2 separate regions of the Homo sapiens genome follow, and region 1 is linked to region 2. A link means that fine-mapping ties the variant in region 2 to the expression of a gene that starts in the linked region. Tissue or cell type: whole blood. Region 2 holds a variant in brackets; the other region holds the start of a gene. All regions are shown on one strand. Distances are between the middles of the regions.

Region 1 (8,093 bases), 190 kb after region 2:
GTGACCTTGGTCTATTTACTTCACTTCTCCAACCTCTTCTAGCTTCAAAATTATGTATATAATTTGCTTAAAATAATCAATATGAGAGTATGAATGACTGATCATATCCTAATGAATCTCTACAGGGTCAAGTTCTAGATACGACAATGAGTTCCTTTTAGAGGGGTTGGAGCAGGTCAGGGGAGGCTTCCTTCACATCACAAAATGACCTGGTGGGTCAGCTACAGATGGAGGGCAGTGGATAGGTCTTGGAGGAGCAGGAAATTTTTCTATCTTGAAGACCTCTTCATTTGTAATCTGACCTACTTCCTGGGATATAAACTGTCATTGATGAGATTATGTATATTTTCTTGTGATTCCAGACTTTATGGATACCTTGCATAATCTATAAACTAGTAGATAACTGTAAGAGAAGAAAAGCCAGGTTGCGGCTCCTAAATTCTGCCTGTTGTTAATGGAAGAAACTCTGCTACTGCTCTGAATTCTCCTTCCCCATCATCTTCCCATTTGAAGCATCGGTTTCACTGGTTTAACCCTAATTTCTCAATAACGGAAGCAAATATTGCAATGGGGAGAGTACAACCCCACCTTAAAACAAATACCCTAGAACCTGTGTCTTTCTAAGCTACACAAAACACGTCAGGATTTGGACTGCCTTTGGAATGCTGAGCCATTAACCCCCACTGACAGAAATCGGGGGGAGCACAAACTCTGAGTCTCATCTGATGACAGCTTAAAAGATCATGGGAGTGAGGCTAGAGAAACTTTTACACCATTAGTCCTGCCCTTGTACTATCTCCTGGCAACTGACCCCAGCAATTAATAGCCTAGGAATTACAATCCTACTTACTGTTGATGCCTAATTACTATATAGGACGATGATTATGCAGATCATTAAATGTTTGTCAAATTAAAAATTTTAAAGTTTTAATTTCAACACTAAATCCTCAGTGGGTTTAGATGTATACAGACTTCATAAAATCATATCACACGGTCTTCTTACAAGGTAAAAAACACAAAATACAACGGTGCTCTCAAGTGATACTTTTTTTGCGGGGGATGGGGGAAGGAGTTTCGCTTTTGTTGCCCAGGCTAGAATGCAATGGCGTGATCTCGGCTCACCGCAACCTCCACCTCCTGGGTTCAAGTGATTCTCCTACCTCAGCCTCCAGAAAGTCTGAGATTACAGGCATGCGCGACCACACCCGGCTAATTTTGTATTTTTAGTAGAGACGCGGTTTCTCTGTGTTGGTCAGGCTGGTCTCGAACTCCCAACCTCAGGTGATCCGCCCGCCTCGGCCTCCCAAAGTGCTGGGATTACAGGTGTGAGCCACCGCACGGGCAGATCACCTCAGGTCGGGAGTTCGAGACCAGCCTGACCAACACAGAGAAACCCCATCTCTACTAAAAATACAAAATTAGCCGGGCATGGTGGTGCATGCCTGTTATCCCAGCTACTCGGGAGGCTGAGGCAGGAGAATCGCTTGAACCCGGGAGGTGGAGGTTGTGGTGAGCCAAGATCACGCCATTGCACTCCAGCCTAGGCAACAAGAGCAAACTCCGTCCCAAAAAAAAAAAAAAAAAAAAAAAAGAAAGAAGTATACTTCTAATGTCCAAATAATACATAATATAGTCATTTTGAAAATCTGCACATCATAACAGGATTCCTCATAGCAGGATATTTTCATGCTCAGTCTTGTATTTCAGCACAAACTAAAGAGTTACACATCACAGTATGTCTGTAGTATCATGGGCTTCCCAGATATGGCTGGACTTCAGCAACAGTAGCCTTTTAAAAACAAATTCCATGGCCCCAATATCATTTAGTTACTTTTATTTAAACTTACCAGCAACTGAACACTATCTTTCCCTAAAAGATGAAGAATCTTGTAAATGCTTGCAAAGATTAAGGGATAAGTGTAACTCCTCAGTCTCTCTGTCCATTCCCAAGTCAAATAACCATAATTAGTAACATTAAGGAGTAAATGTCCAATAATATTGAAACCTATTTCCGTGTTTTTTTTTTTTTTAAGATGGGGTCTCACTCTCTTGCCCAGGCTGGTCTCAAACTTGGGCTCAAGTGGTCCTGCCTCTACAGGTGCACACCACTTCACCTGGCAAAATCTATTTTCATTTCCATTTATAAAACAATATTTTATTTTGTGGCAGTCTTAAAACAGCATTTTATACTGGATATTTGCATTAAAAATTCAATTGGCCAACTAAACTCTTAACTTCTTCAAGGCAGTAATGTGTTTTTTACTTTCTCTGTATCCTCCAAGTGCTAAGTACTGTGGGAATGTATGCTAACGGCTGTGTCAAGTATATTAACATAAAAGAAAGATACAGGAGAAATATTTGTATAAAATAATGGTATACTTTGATGAGTTAAAATTATTTGGGGAAAATACGGAAAACTGAAAATATGTATAGTAGTCCCCCCTTATCTGTGGTTTCTCTTTCCATGTTTCAGTTGCCCAGAGTCAACCACTGTCTGAAAATATGAAGATATTTTGAGAGAGACCACATAAAAGTTCACATAACTTTTATTATAGTATTGTGTTATACTTGTTATATTTTAATACTGTTAATCTCTTACTGTACCTAATTTGTATAAACTTTATCATAAGCGTGTGTGTATTTTTTACATATATAAAAACAATATATATAGAGTTTGGTACTGTCTACAGTTTCAAGCATCCACTAGGGATTTTGGAAACTATCTACTGAAGACGAGGGAGCAAGGGGGACTACTCTAAAAGAAACTGAGCACAATTTCCAAGATGAATACACACTCATAGTCTGGAAAAGAAACCACAAAGGATATTTGAAAACCATGTGATGTGAAACTTCAAGAGACTGCCAGTATTCATCTGGAACAAAACTTGTCTGCACTAAAAAGCAGTTTAATATTCGTAAAGCTATGGTAAACAAGAGCAGATAAATATTTTCTCCAAGAAGATCTGAAAAACAGAACAAAACAGGTAATAGTGGCACAAAAGTCAGGCAGTTCCACTTGCAAAACTTAAAATCTGCTGCTCTGGTTGGCTCCTTGTAAGGCACAGTAGTGACCTCTGGTCCCTCCACACCATTCTTAAAGCCAACTTGGTTGGTTATACAAGCACCACAGCGTCATCACTGGGTGACTGCCACTCTTTTAGTTTAACCAACTTTTCTTGCAACTTATTGTGTAAAGATAATATTAAAATAAATACAAAAAAAAAAGAGTGGGTTAACTAAGGCCTTAGGCTAATTAATTAGGTCATACTATGTGTGTATCTAATGAAAGAAACCAGCTAACAAATTACTAATTTGGGAAGCAGCCCTTTGTATATGTGCAATATAAAATGGTCCTCTGTACATATATATTGATGATTACTATTATATATGCCAGGCACTGTGTTAATTTCTTCACATGCATCTCACTTAATCCTCCAAACAATATTATGGGATAGGTATTATTAGCCCCATTTTACAGACGAGCAAATTGAGGCCCAGAAATTAAACTGCCTTGTCCAAATAAAGTTGTAAATTACTTATCAGGATTCAAACCCGGGTCTGTGTGATGTCTCCAAAGTCCTGCTCTTGACCACAAATGGACAGCCTGTCGGCCAAATACAGAGTATTTTTTAAAAAATTGAATTTAGTTGCCAACATTTAAAAATCAGAATTTATATTAAAATCTGTGTTTCCAGCATTTCCCAGCATTTCAAAACTCAAGATCTGGCAACACAGAGCTCAACGGGCAACTGGCTGGTAATGAAATGGAGGGGGTTCCTTTTAGATGGGGGTAGGAGCTCTCCAGACAGTGTCCCCTCACTCACCCCCGCGGCGCCTGGCGCTCTTCTCCTGGGTGTTGAAGTACAAGGTAGACTTTCTCTTTCGCAGCTTTATCTTGCCGTGGGAGCGGTTCTGGAGACCATGCAAAGTGAGGCTGGCATCTCCGCCCCCCGGCTCCATTCCGCACTTGCTTAGGGGCCTCCTCATCCCTGGCCGCCACCTTCCTAAGGCGGAAGAAAGCTGCAGTAGCGCGCTGCTCGTCCATCCATTAAGTTTGGCCTTTGAGAGCAGTCGTCGCTCGCAAGCCCGGAAGTAACCGGGAACGGGCAACTTCGTAGCTCCCACCCGACGTGGTGGCCTCCTTGCGGTTTCCTTTCGCCGTTTCCGAACCGAGGGATTGCTACTCGCCTTTGGCTTGGCGGTCTCTGTGCTCGGGGGTCCGAAAACTGCTGGAAGGCCCCCGGTCTCTGGAGGGGAGCAGGCGGTAGCGAGTTTAGTGACGTGGAGCAGGCGCAGAACAGTCGGAGGTACCTGAGTGGTTATTAAAAACGGTAACGGTAATTGTAGACGTCAGTGTTGGTGTTAACATTTCAGGTTCGTTGCTCTCACAAAAAATGCCTGTTCAACGAGGTAGGCAGGGTAGGGATGATTTAGCTTGTTGTACAGATGTGGAAACAGGCCGAATGGTTCCTATTTTTTTTGTTGTTGTTGCTGTTGTTAGGTTTTTTTTTTGTTTTTGTTTTTGTTTTTTTTTTTGAGACGGAGTTTCGCTCTTGTAGTCCAGGCTGGAGTGCAGTGGCGCAATCTGGGCTCACTGCAACTTCTGCCTCCCGGGTTCCAGTGATTTTCCTGCCTCAGCTCCCAAGTAGCTGGGACTACAGGCGCGCCACCACGCCTGGCCAATTTTTGTGTTTTTTTGTAGAGACGGGGTTTCACCATATTGGCCTGGCTGGTCTGGAACTCCTGACCTCGTGATCCGCCCGCCTCGGCCTCCCAAAGTGTTGGGATTACAGGCGTGAGCCACCGCGTGCGGCCCACTCCTCTTGTTAAAAGTAAAACCAGGCCGGGCGCGGTGGCTCACGCCTGTATTCCCAGTACTTTGGGAGGCCAAGACGGGCGGATCAGGAGGTCAGAGGATCGAGACCATCCTGGCTAACACGGTGAAACCCCGTCTCTACAAAAAATACAAAAAATTAGCCGGGTGTGGTGACACGCGCCTGTAGTCCCAGCTTCTCGGGAGGCTGAGGTAGGAGAATGGCGTTAACCGAGGAGGCGGAGCTTGCAGTGAGCCGAGATTGCGCCATTGCACTCCAGCCTGGGCGACAGAGCGAGACTCCGTCTCAAAAAAAAAAAAAAAAAGAAAAAGTATGCATTTAAAACCATTGAGAACATTCTGTAATAGAAAAGGTTTTAGTTTTGTCTTATACCCTTCCCTAATTCACTTCCTGTACTCCTTATGTATTTATATTCTTGTTTTAATTAGTAACATATTATAAAAATATTGTTCACTCCAGTGCAAAGTAGTGACATAACATCTTTTAAAAGGACATTGTACTAAGTGATGGCTTTGCTTTCCATTTTTGTATGCAGATTTGAAGAGATTTCCTGGGTGTGGAGTGTGACTTTCCAAAACCAGCTTTTCCTTGAGCTGTATTTGTTGCAGCAATGTTTAGGAGATTGACTTTTGCACAACTGCTTTTTGCCACTGTCCTTGGAATTGCTGGAGGAGTATATATTTTTCAACCAGTATTTGAACAGTATGCCAAAGATCAGAAGGAATTAAAAGAAAAGATGCAGTTGGTACAAGAATCAGAAGAGAAGAAAAGTTAATACTACATGGAGTTAGGCCTGGCGCAGTGGCTCACGCCTGTAATCCCAGCACTTTGGGAGGCCGAGGCGGGTGGATCAGGTGGTCAGGAGTTCAAGACCAGCCTGACCAACATGGTGAAACCCTGTCTCTACTGAAAATACAAAAATCAGCCAGGCTTGGTGGCATGCGCCTGTAATCCCAGCTACTTGGGAGGCTGAGGCAGGAGCATCACTTGAACCTGGGAGGCAGAGGTGGCAGTGAGTCAAGATCACGCTGCTGCACTCCAGCCTGGGTGACAGAGCGAGACTCCATCTAAAAAAACAAAAAGCAAAAAAACCCACAAATACCTCATGGAGATGAACTGTAATAATTGCTTAAAGTTCCATTTAATTATGTTAACTCTAATCTAGCAAAAACATAGATGTACTTAAAAATAAATCATGGATAATGATTTTTTAACCTAACACTGTTAATTTTAATGTTTATTGTATATTTGTCATTTTATGTCTTTTTACCAGGACAGATAAGTAATTTCCTTTTAAACAAAAGTGAATATTTTAGGAATATTTTCTACTTGAGGTTTATTTTTCTAGGAATTCAGCATATGCAGTATCATGGGGTGCCAGTCTCAGTGTGTATATAATAATTGGGAAGGGTGTTTGCAATAGTGTTTGTAGATATGTGAACCAACTTAAACTACCTCAGGCAGAAATCCACTCCGTTACCCTGCAGTTAGATTGGTTTAATATATTTTGGCAGTCATTCAATCCCAGCCGTTTTTCATCTCAGGCAGTGTGGAGGAGTAGTTGAGAGTTGGGATGGCTCAGATCAAATTGAGGTTTTAGAGAAGGTAGATGTTGTTTGAGAGGATGGCAGATATGACACAGATGTTTTTTAATCCACTAAGCAAATTTGCATTAATAATTGTGTTAAGGGAGTAGTTAATTTATTATGAAGCTATTATTCATATAGTTAAAATTTTTTTTGAAGTTACTAAGAATTGGTATTACTTTTTACTCTAGCGTTAAGTTTGTATTTTCTTTTTTTCTCCTTTTTTTTTTTAAGTTCTGGGATACATGTGCTGAACGTGCAGGTTTGTAACATAGATATACATGTGCCATGGTGTTTGCTGCACCTGTCAACCCGTCATCTAGGTTTTAAGCCCTGCAGGCATTAGGTATTTGTCCTAATGCTCTCCCTCCCCTTGCCCCCCACCCGCCCCCGACAGGCCCCAGTGTGTGATGTTCCCCTCCCTGTGTCCATGTATTCTCATTGTTCAGCTCTCACTTATGAGTGAGAACATGTGGTGTTTGGTTTTCTGTTCCTGTGTTAGTTAGTTTGCTGAGAATGATGGTTTCCAGCTTCATCCATGTCCCTACAAAGTACATAAATTCTTTTTTTTTTTTTTTTTTTGAGACGGAGTCTGGCTCTGTTGCCCAGGCTGGAGCGCAGTGGCGCAATATTGGTTTGCTGCAACCTCTGCCTCCGCCTCCCAGGTTCAAGCAGTTCTGCCTCAGCCTACGTAGTAGCTGGGACTACATGTGTGCACCACCACACCTAGCTAATGTTTGTATTTTTAGTAGAGATGGGGTTTCACCATTTTGGCCAGAATGGTTTCAATCTGCTGACCTCGTGATCCACCTGCTTCGGCCTCCCAAAGTGCTGGGATTATAGGCATGAGCCACCGCGCCTGGCCGTGCATGTGTCTTTATAGTAGAATGATTTGTAATCCTTTGGGTATATACCCAGTAATGGGATTGCTGGGTCAAATGGCATTTCTGGTTGTAGATCCTTGAGGAATTGCCACACTGTCTTCACAATGGTTGAACTAATTTACACTCCCACCAACAGTGTAAAAGCGTTCGTATTTCTCCACAGCCTCACCAGCATCTGTTGTTTCCTGACTTTTTAATGATCACCATTCTAACTGGCATGAGATGGTATCTCATTGTGGTTTTGATTTGCATTTCTCTAATGACAAGTGATGATGAGCTTTTTTTCATAAGTTTGTTGGCTGCGTAAATGTCTTCTTTTGAGAAGTGTCTGTTCATATCCTTCACTCACTTTTTGATGGGGTTGTTTTTTTCTTGTAAATTTGTTTAAGTCCCTTGTAGATTCTGGATATTAGCCCTTTGTCAGATGGATAGATTACGAAAATTTTCTCCCATTCTGTAGGTTGCCTGTTCACTCTCACGATAGTTTCTTTTGCTAGGCAGAAGCTCTTTAATTAGATCCCATTTGTCGATTTTGGCTTTTGTTGCAATTGCTTTTTGGTGGCCTTGTCATGAAGTCTTTGCCCGTGCCTATGTCCTGAATGGTATTGCCTAGGTTTTCTTCTAGACTTTTTATGGTTTTAGGTTTTCCATTTAAGTTATTAGTCCATCTTGAGTTAATTTTTGTATAAGGTGTAAGGAAGGGGTCCAGTTTCTGTTTTCTGCATATGGCTAGCCAGTTTTCCCAGCACCATTTATTAAATAGGGAATCCTTTCCCCATTGCTTGTTT
Region 2 (8,106 bases):
GATCCTTGAGTAAATATCTTAGTTCGAGGAGAAGTTTACAAACGCTCTGCTCAGCCAGTGTTTCAAACTTTCTAAGATGAACTAAATGTGCCAGTACCAGAAATTCCAGGAAAAACAAGAAATTTGTTTTTGCAATTAGCCAAGCATGTAGCCCAGTCTCTCAGTGTCACTTCATGTTATGTATGTGGAGGAACTGTGATGGGAGATCAATGGCCATGGGAAGCCCAAGAATTAGTACCTACAGACCCAGTTCCCAATGAATTCCCAGCTCAAAAGAGTCACCTTGATAATTTCTGGACCCTGAAGCCTCAATTATTGGACAATATTGCATAGCTAGAGAAGGAAAATAATTCACTCACCCCTTAGGACAACTTAGTTGTCTGGGACAGAAACTGTATAATGGTACCACAAAAACAGTCACTTGGTGGAGTTCAAATCACACAGAAAGGAATCCATTTAGTAAATTCCCAAGGTTGCAAACCATGTGGACCCACCTGGAGTCCCACTAGGACTGGACAGCCCCCACTGGATTATACTGGCTATGTGGGCATAGAGCTTACGCTAAATTACCTGGCCAGTGGGCAGGTAGTTGTATTACTGGCACTATTAAACCATCTTTCTTCCTACTGTCCATAAAGACAGGCGAACTCCTGGGCTTCCCTGTCTATGCTTCCCATGAAAAAAGAAGCATAGCTATAGGAAATTGGAAAGATAATGAATGGCCCCCAGAGAGAATCATACAATATTATGGACCTGCTACTTGGGGACGAGATGGTTCATGGGGATACTAGACCCCCATTTACATGCTCAACCAAATCATATGGTTACAAGCTGTCTTAGAAATAATCACTAATATGGGCTGGGCGCGGTGGCTCACACCTGTAATCCCAGCACTTTGGGAGGCCAACGCAGGTGGATCACGAGGTCAGGAGATTGAGACCATCCTGGCTAACATGGTGAAACCCCGTCTCTACTAACAATACAAAAAATTAGCCAGGGGTGGTGGCGGGTGCCTGTGGTTCCAGCTACTTGGGAGGCTGAGGCAGGAGAATGGCGTGAACCTGGGAGGCAGAGCTTGCAGCGAGCCGAGATTGTGCCACTGCACTCCAGCCTGGGCGACAGAGTGAGACTCCATCTCAAAAAAAAAAAAAAAAAGAAAAGAAAGAAAGAATCACTAATAAAACCGACAGAGCCTTGACTATTCTGGCCTGTCAAGAGACTCAGATGAGAAATGCTATCTATCAAAATAGATTGGCTCTTGACTACTTGCTAGCAGCTGAAGGAGGGGTCTGTGGGAAATTTAACCTTACTAATTGCTGTCTACACGTAGATGATCAAGGGCAAGTAGTTGAAGACATAGTCAGAGATATGATAAAACTGTCACATGTGCCCATGCAAGTGTGGCATGGATTTGATCCTGGGGCCATGTTTGGAAAATGGTTCCCAGTGTTAGGAGGATTTAAAACTCTTATAATAGGAGTTATATTAGTAATAGGAACCTGCTTACTGCTCCCTTGTTTGCTACCTGTACTTCTTCAAATGATAAAAAGCTTCATCGCTACCTTAGTTCACCAAAATGCTTCAGAACAACTGTACTATATGAATCACTATCGATCTGTCTTGCAAGAATACATGGGTAGTGAGGATGAAAGTGAGAACTCCCACTAATTGACTGAGGTTCTCAAAGTGGGGGAATAAGGGAGGAGACCACCCCTCATATTGTCTTATGCCCAATTTCTGCCTCCAAAGAAAGAAGTAAAAATTAAAAGGCAGAAATGGAATCCACAGGCAGATAGCCCAGCATCACGCCCTGGGCCTGGTAGTTAAGAATCAACCCCTGACCTAACTGCTCGTGTTATCTATAGATTTCAGACATTGTATGGAAAAACATTGTGAAAATCCCTGTCCTGTTTTATTCCGTTCTGATGACCGGTGCATGCAGCTCCCAGTCACGTACCCACTGCTTGCTTAATTGATCACGACCCTCTCACGCGGACCCCGTTAGAGTTGTAAGCCCTTAAAAGGGACAGGAATTGCTCACTCGGGGAGCTCGGTTTTTGGAAACGTGAGTCTGCTGATGCTTCCAGCTGAATAAAGCCCTTTCCTTCCACAACTCGGTGTCGTCTGAGGGGTTCTTGTCTGTGGTTCGTCCCGCTACACGTACAGGGTAATGGTTTAATATTTCATGAATAATATTAATTGTATTTCAAAATTAATGTGGTTAAATATACTGATATACTTTAATACATTTTTTCAACAGTTTAATGTTTTGGCATAGATAATAAATACAAATAGGAATTTGCATTTATCTAATGACAAAATGTTAACATTTTAAACTCTACTCAGTTATAAACTAAACTCAATTTTAAAATGTTTAAAAAATGTGTGGATGACACAAAAACAAACCTTCATGTTTGTTTATATTCTCCCCTTATTAATCCTCTTTAAGGATTAATTAAGCCTACAAAATTCTACTTTAATAATAGTTGTTCTCCTTAAGAGTCCCTTAAAACTTTTTTTTTTAATTAAATAACTAGGCCAGGTGTGGTGGCTCACACCTGTAATCCCAGCACTTTGGGAGGCTGAGGTGGGTAGATCCCCTGAGGTCAGGCATTCAAGACCAGCCTGGCCAACATGGTGAAACCCCGTCTCTACTAAAAATACAAAAAAATTAGCCAGGCATGGTGGCGCATGCCTGTACTCCCAGTTACTAGGGAAGCTGAGGCAGGAGAATCACTTGAACCCAGGAGGTGGAGGTTTCAGTGAGCCAGGATCACACCACTGCACTCCAGTCTGGGCAATGGAGCGAGACTCCGTTTTGAAAAAAAAAAAATGAAATAAGTGGTATTGTGCCAAAACAAGTCTAATAGGAAAAACAATCAAGCTCATACCCTATAAATATATATCTAAGATATTAGGACCCAAAAGAAAAGGAAAATTATGCAGGGTCACTTCACATTCTACATGACCTCTACCTAGATATTCTCATTTAATTTTAAATCACATTATCATTTCCGAAAGCCCAAATTTAAAATAGTAAAATAACTAATGCATTTAACACCTAGTGCCTAGAGTTTGGTCTGTAAAGCTATTCTCCACTAAATAGAACTAAAAGTTCTTGGAGAATTTCAATTCCTAGAGAAAAAAAAAGAAAAGAAAAACCTTTAAGGTGGACCTAAGTGATCTTGCTACTAGAATGAGGGATTTTTTTAAATGCCTTTTAAAGTTCCAAAGTGGTGTTAAGAAAACATAGAAAGCAACCTTTTCCAATGGCAAAATTTCGAATTTTGCACATCAAAAGTAAATAAAATTATAGGTAATTAATTTTAGGTTACGAATAGTAAATCATACTTAATTTTTGCTCCATAATGTATGCTTACACTCTCTAAGAACCTCAGGATATGAAATAAGGAAATAAGTATGCTTGTGTACTATAGAGATTGTTTTGAAATTTTTACTTTAAACTTGTAATATTTTTTACAAACAAAATAATTTATGGATTTACATACATAAACTATTAATAATAAAAGGAATAAGTATAAATCTATCACTGAAAATTACAGAGAGAGGAAAAAAATAACCTGGTGATATGGTTTGGCTGTGTCACCACCCAAATCTCATCTTGAATTGTAGTTCCCATAATCCCAACGTGGGGACCCAGTGGGTGATAACCGAATCATGGGGGCAGTTACCTCCATGCTGCTCTTGTGGTAGTGGGTGAGTTCTCATGAGATCTGATGATTTTATAAGGGGCTTCCCCCTACTTTGCTCTGCACTTCTCCTTGCTGCGGTCATGTGAAGAAGGACGTGTTTGCTTTCCCTTCCACCAAGATTGTAAGATTCCTGAGGCCTCCCCAGCCTTGCAGAATTGTGAGTCAATTAAACCTCTTTCCTTTATAACCCAGTCTTGGGTATGTCTTTATTAGCAGCGTGAGAACAGACTAATACACCTGTCAGTCTCCTTCATGCTTTCTGATTGCACGCTTTAATGCAATGACCAGAATCAAACAGAAACGACCTTGGGTGTTTTCTCTGGATTTTCCTGGGCAACCAGCCAGTGGGACCTGGACCTTCTGGCTCACAGTTGGAGGGGCTACACCTGAACTCAGCTTTTCATGGGATGGACAGTTTCTTCCAACACAAGTTCCAACAACTTTCTGTTTGACCCAAGGTCTCCAGATACTGGATAATGGGCTTTTTCAAAAAATACCTAT[C/A]GGGCCGGGCGCAGTGGCTCACGTCTGTAATCCCAGCACTTTGGGAGGCCGAGGGGGGCGCATCACGAGGTCAGGAGATTAAGACCATCCTGGCTAACACAGTGAAACCCCGTCTCTACTAAAAATACAAAAAATTAGCCGGGCATGGTGGCGGGCGCCTGTAGTCCCAGCTACTGGGGAGGCTGAGGCAGAAGAATGGCGTGAACCCGGGAGGTGGAGCTTGCAGTGAGCTGAGATCGTGCCACTGCACTCCAGCCTGGGCGACAGAGTGAGAGTCTGTCTCAGACAAACAAACAAACAAATAAATGCCTGTAAACAGACTGCCTGGTGCTCTAGTAGTTTCCTTACTGACAAAATTCTTTTTGTGTGTGCCCTATAAATAGGAGAGCAACAAGAGGATGGGATTCCTCTCCTATTATGCAAACCCACACCATGGATCCAGCAGACTACTCTGGCCCCAGCATGCTGCTCCTTGGGATGATGGGAGAAGGGGGAAACCTGTGTTTTCTCTTGGTTTTGTAAGTTTCCCCTTTCCCCAGTAAAACTCATCCCTTAATCTAGTGGTTCTCAAACTTTGGTGTGTATCAAAATTATCTGGTAGGCTGGATAAAACACAGATTGCTGTGCCCCACTTCCAGAACTTCTGGTTCAATAGATCTAGAAGGAGACTGGGAATTTGCATTTCTAACAGGTCCCCAGATGATGGTAATATTGCTGGTGGTGGTGGGGAGGACCACATTCTGAGAACCTCTGTATTTAATTTTATTTGTATTTATTTATTTTATTTATTGTTTTAATTTAATTTTTGAGTCCCTGTTACTCAGGCTAGAGTGCAGTGGCATAATCATAGTCCACTGTAACCTGAACTCCTGGCCTCAAGTGACACTCCCAAAGTGCTGAGATTACAGGCGTGAGACACAATGTGCATCCCGGGCCTTCGTTTTAATTCATACAGTGTGACTATGTGGTAATCAGTTCTGTTGGTTACCAAAAAGGCTCCCACTTGTATGAACTTCACATAAGAGTTAACCACTCTCCTTTCTAGTGCCTATCTTTACAGACGACCCCTGACTTATGATGGTTTCTCTTTGATTTCCTAACTTTACAGTGATGCAAAAGCTATATGCATTCAGTAGAAACCATGCTGTGAGTACCCATACAACCATTCTGTTTTTCATTTTTAATACAGTATTCAATAAATTACAGGGTATATTAGACACTTTATTACACCTTATTATGTTAGATGACTTTGCCCAACTGTAGGCTAATGTAAGTGTTCTGAGCATGTTTAAGGTAGGGTAGCCTAAGCTATGGTGTTTGGTAGGTTAGGTGTTTTACATGTATTTTTGACATAGGATATTTTCAACTTATGATGGGTTTATCAGGAGGTAACCACATTGTAAGTAGAGAAGTGTTTGTATAGTTTTACCACATACCTAGGAATCCTTATCTAGTGGATTCAGTTTCCGTTGTTCAAAAGTTTTATAAAGGCCAGGCATGGTAGCTCATGCCTGTAATCCCAGCACTTTGGGAGATGGAAGTGAACGGATCACCTGAGGTCAGAAGTTCGAGACCAGCCTGGCCAACATGGTGAAACCCCACCTCTAATAAAAATACAAAAAATTAGCCAGGCTTGGTGGTGGGTGCCTGTAATCCCAGCTACTCAGGAGGCTGAGACAGGAGAATCGCTTGAACCTGGGAGGCAGAGATTGCAGTGAGCCAAGATGCCCCATTGCACTCCAGCCTGGGTGACAAGAGTGAAACTCCATCAAAAAAAGAAAAAAGAAAAATAAAAAAGTAAAAGTTGTATAAAATAGCATTATTTCTTGAGGATATTATTTGACTTGCTTTTTTCACTCATCCATCCAATGTATAGCTATCATTCACTCATTTTTATTGTTGTATAATATTCTGTTTTGTGTATATACCTGTTGAAAGACATTTGGCTTATTTTCAGGTTTTTTTCTATGAAGTTGCTATGAACACCTATAAATGTTTCCTAGTGTATAGGACCAAGACTTTTTCTAGGGCAGTAATTCTCAGATGGGGGAAATTTTGCTATTCCCACCCACCCCTGAAACCCAGAAGACATTTGGCAATGTCTGGAGACACTTTTATTATTAGAACTCAGGAGTGTTACTAGAATTAAGAGGGTGGATGCTGCTAAACATCTTAAAATGCACAGAGCAGCCTAAATTATACAAAATGATCCAGCCTATAATGTTAATAGTGTGGAGGCTGAAAAACCCTGTTGTAGGACAGTGGTTCACAAAGCATCAGCATCACCTAGGAACTTGCTAGAAATCTCTAAGATAGATACATAGGAGTGGAATTGCTGGTTATAAAATAAGCAGGTATTCACATTAATAAGATTATGCCAATTTGCCCATTTTATTGTGGGGTTGTGTTTCTTTTTCTCTATATATTTTGTTTATATGTTCTCTTTGTTTATTATTGAGAAAGAGGGCAAAAAGCAGCCCCTGATATTCAGAAGCTGACCTGGCACTCACAGCTTGGCCATAATATTATTCTGTTGAACATTAACAATTTAAATCTCATAGAATACCAAGCTGAGACAAAAGTACTCTGAGATCACAATAAAATGAGACAAGGCCACTTCATAGCATTATCTAAGCATAGGCAAAAACAAGGTCTTTGTGTCACCCATAAGATAACAGACACCCCCTTTCTGGATAAAATGTACAACAGCTACTTTTTTTATTATTATACTCTAAGTTCTAAGGTACATGTGCACAACGTGCAGGTTTGTTACATAGGTATACATGTGCCATGTTGGTTTGCTGCACCCATCAACTTGTCACTTACATTAGGTATTTCTCCTAACGCTATCCCTCCCCCAGCCCCCCCACCTCTCAACAGGCCCCAGTGTGTAATGTTCCCCTCCCTGTGTCCATGTGTTCTCATTTTTCAACTCCCACTTACGAGTGAGAACACGTGGTGTTTGGTTTTCTGCCCTTGTGCTATTTTGCTGAGAGTGATGGTTTCCAGATTCATCCATGTCCCTGCAAAGGACGTGAACTCCTCCTTTTTTATGGCTGCATAGTATTCCATGGTGTATATGTGCCACATTTTCTTTATCCAGTCTATTATTGATGGACATTTGGGTTGGTTCCAAGTCTTTGCTATTGTGAATAGTGCCTCAGTAAACATACGTGTGCATGTGTCTTTATAGTAGCATGATTTATAATCTTTTATATATACCCAGTAATGGGATTGCTGGGTCAAATGGTATTTCTAGTTCTAGATCCTTCAGGAATCTTCACACTGTCTTCCATAATGGTTGAACTAATTTACACTCCCACCAAAAGTGTAAAAGTGTTCCTATTTCTCCACATCCTCTCCAGCATCTATTGTTTCTTGACGTTTTAATGATCACCATTCTGACTGGTGTGAGATGGTATCTCACTGTGGTTTTGATTTGCATTTCTTTGATGACCAGTGATGACAAGCATTTTTTCATATGTCTGTTGGATGCATAAATGTCTTCTTTTGAGAAGTGTCTGTTCATATCCTTTGCTCACTTTTTGATGGGGTTGTTTTTTTCTTGTAAATTTGTTTAAGTTCTTTGTAGATTCTGGATATTAGCCCTTTGTCAGATGGATAGATTGCAAAAATTTTCTCCCATTCTGTAGGTTGCCTGTTCACTCTGATGATAGTTTCTTTTGCTGTGCAGAAGCTCTTTAGTTTAATTAGATCCCATTTGTCAATTTTGGCTTTTGTTGCCATTGCTTTTGGTGCTTTAGTCATGAAGTTTTTGCCCATGCCTATGTCCTAAATGGTATTGCCTAAGTTTTCTTCTAGGGTTTTTATGGTTTTAGGTCTTACATTTAAGTCTTTAATCCATCTTGAGTTAATTTTTGTATAAGGTGTA

Evidence for each region. PIP is the estimated chance that this variant, and not a neighbour inherited with it, causes the effect.
Region 1: it holds the start of PIGB, and the variant in region 2 is fine-mapped to the expression of PIGB in whole blood (TOPMed, PIP 0.96).

The regions. Positions count from the first base shown.
Region 1 is chr15:55,315,145-55,323,237 of GRCh38, reverse strand. PIGB (phosphatidylinositol glycan anchor biosynthesis class B) reads right to left here and starts at 4,016. Exons shown (of 12, transcript NM_004855.5): 1 at 3,825-4,016; 2 at 2,828-2,963; 3 at 1,848-1,965. The coding sequence starts at 3,987. PIGBOS1 (PIGB opposite strand 1) reads left to right here and starts at 4,115. Exons shown (of 2, transcript NM_001308421.2): 1 at 4,115-4,374; 2 at 5,371-6,054. The coding sequence starts at 5,446. The coding sequence ends at 5,610. It also overlaps a transcript of RAB27A not described here. RefSeq lists enhancers at 3,757-3,836, 3,907-3,986, 4,047-4,136, 4,187-4,256.
Region 2 is chr15:55,504,748-55,512,853 of GRCh38, reverse strand. It overlaps DNAAF4 (dynein axonemal assembly factor 4), which reads left to right and starts at 4,620. Exons shown (of 10, transcript NM_130810.4): 1 at 4,620-4,732. It overlaps LOC124903496, which reads left to right. Exons shown (of 2, transcript XM_047433411.1): 2 at 1-2,113. The variant C/A (reference allele first, on the strand shown) is at 4,215.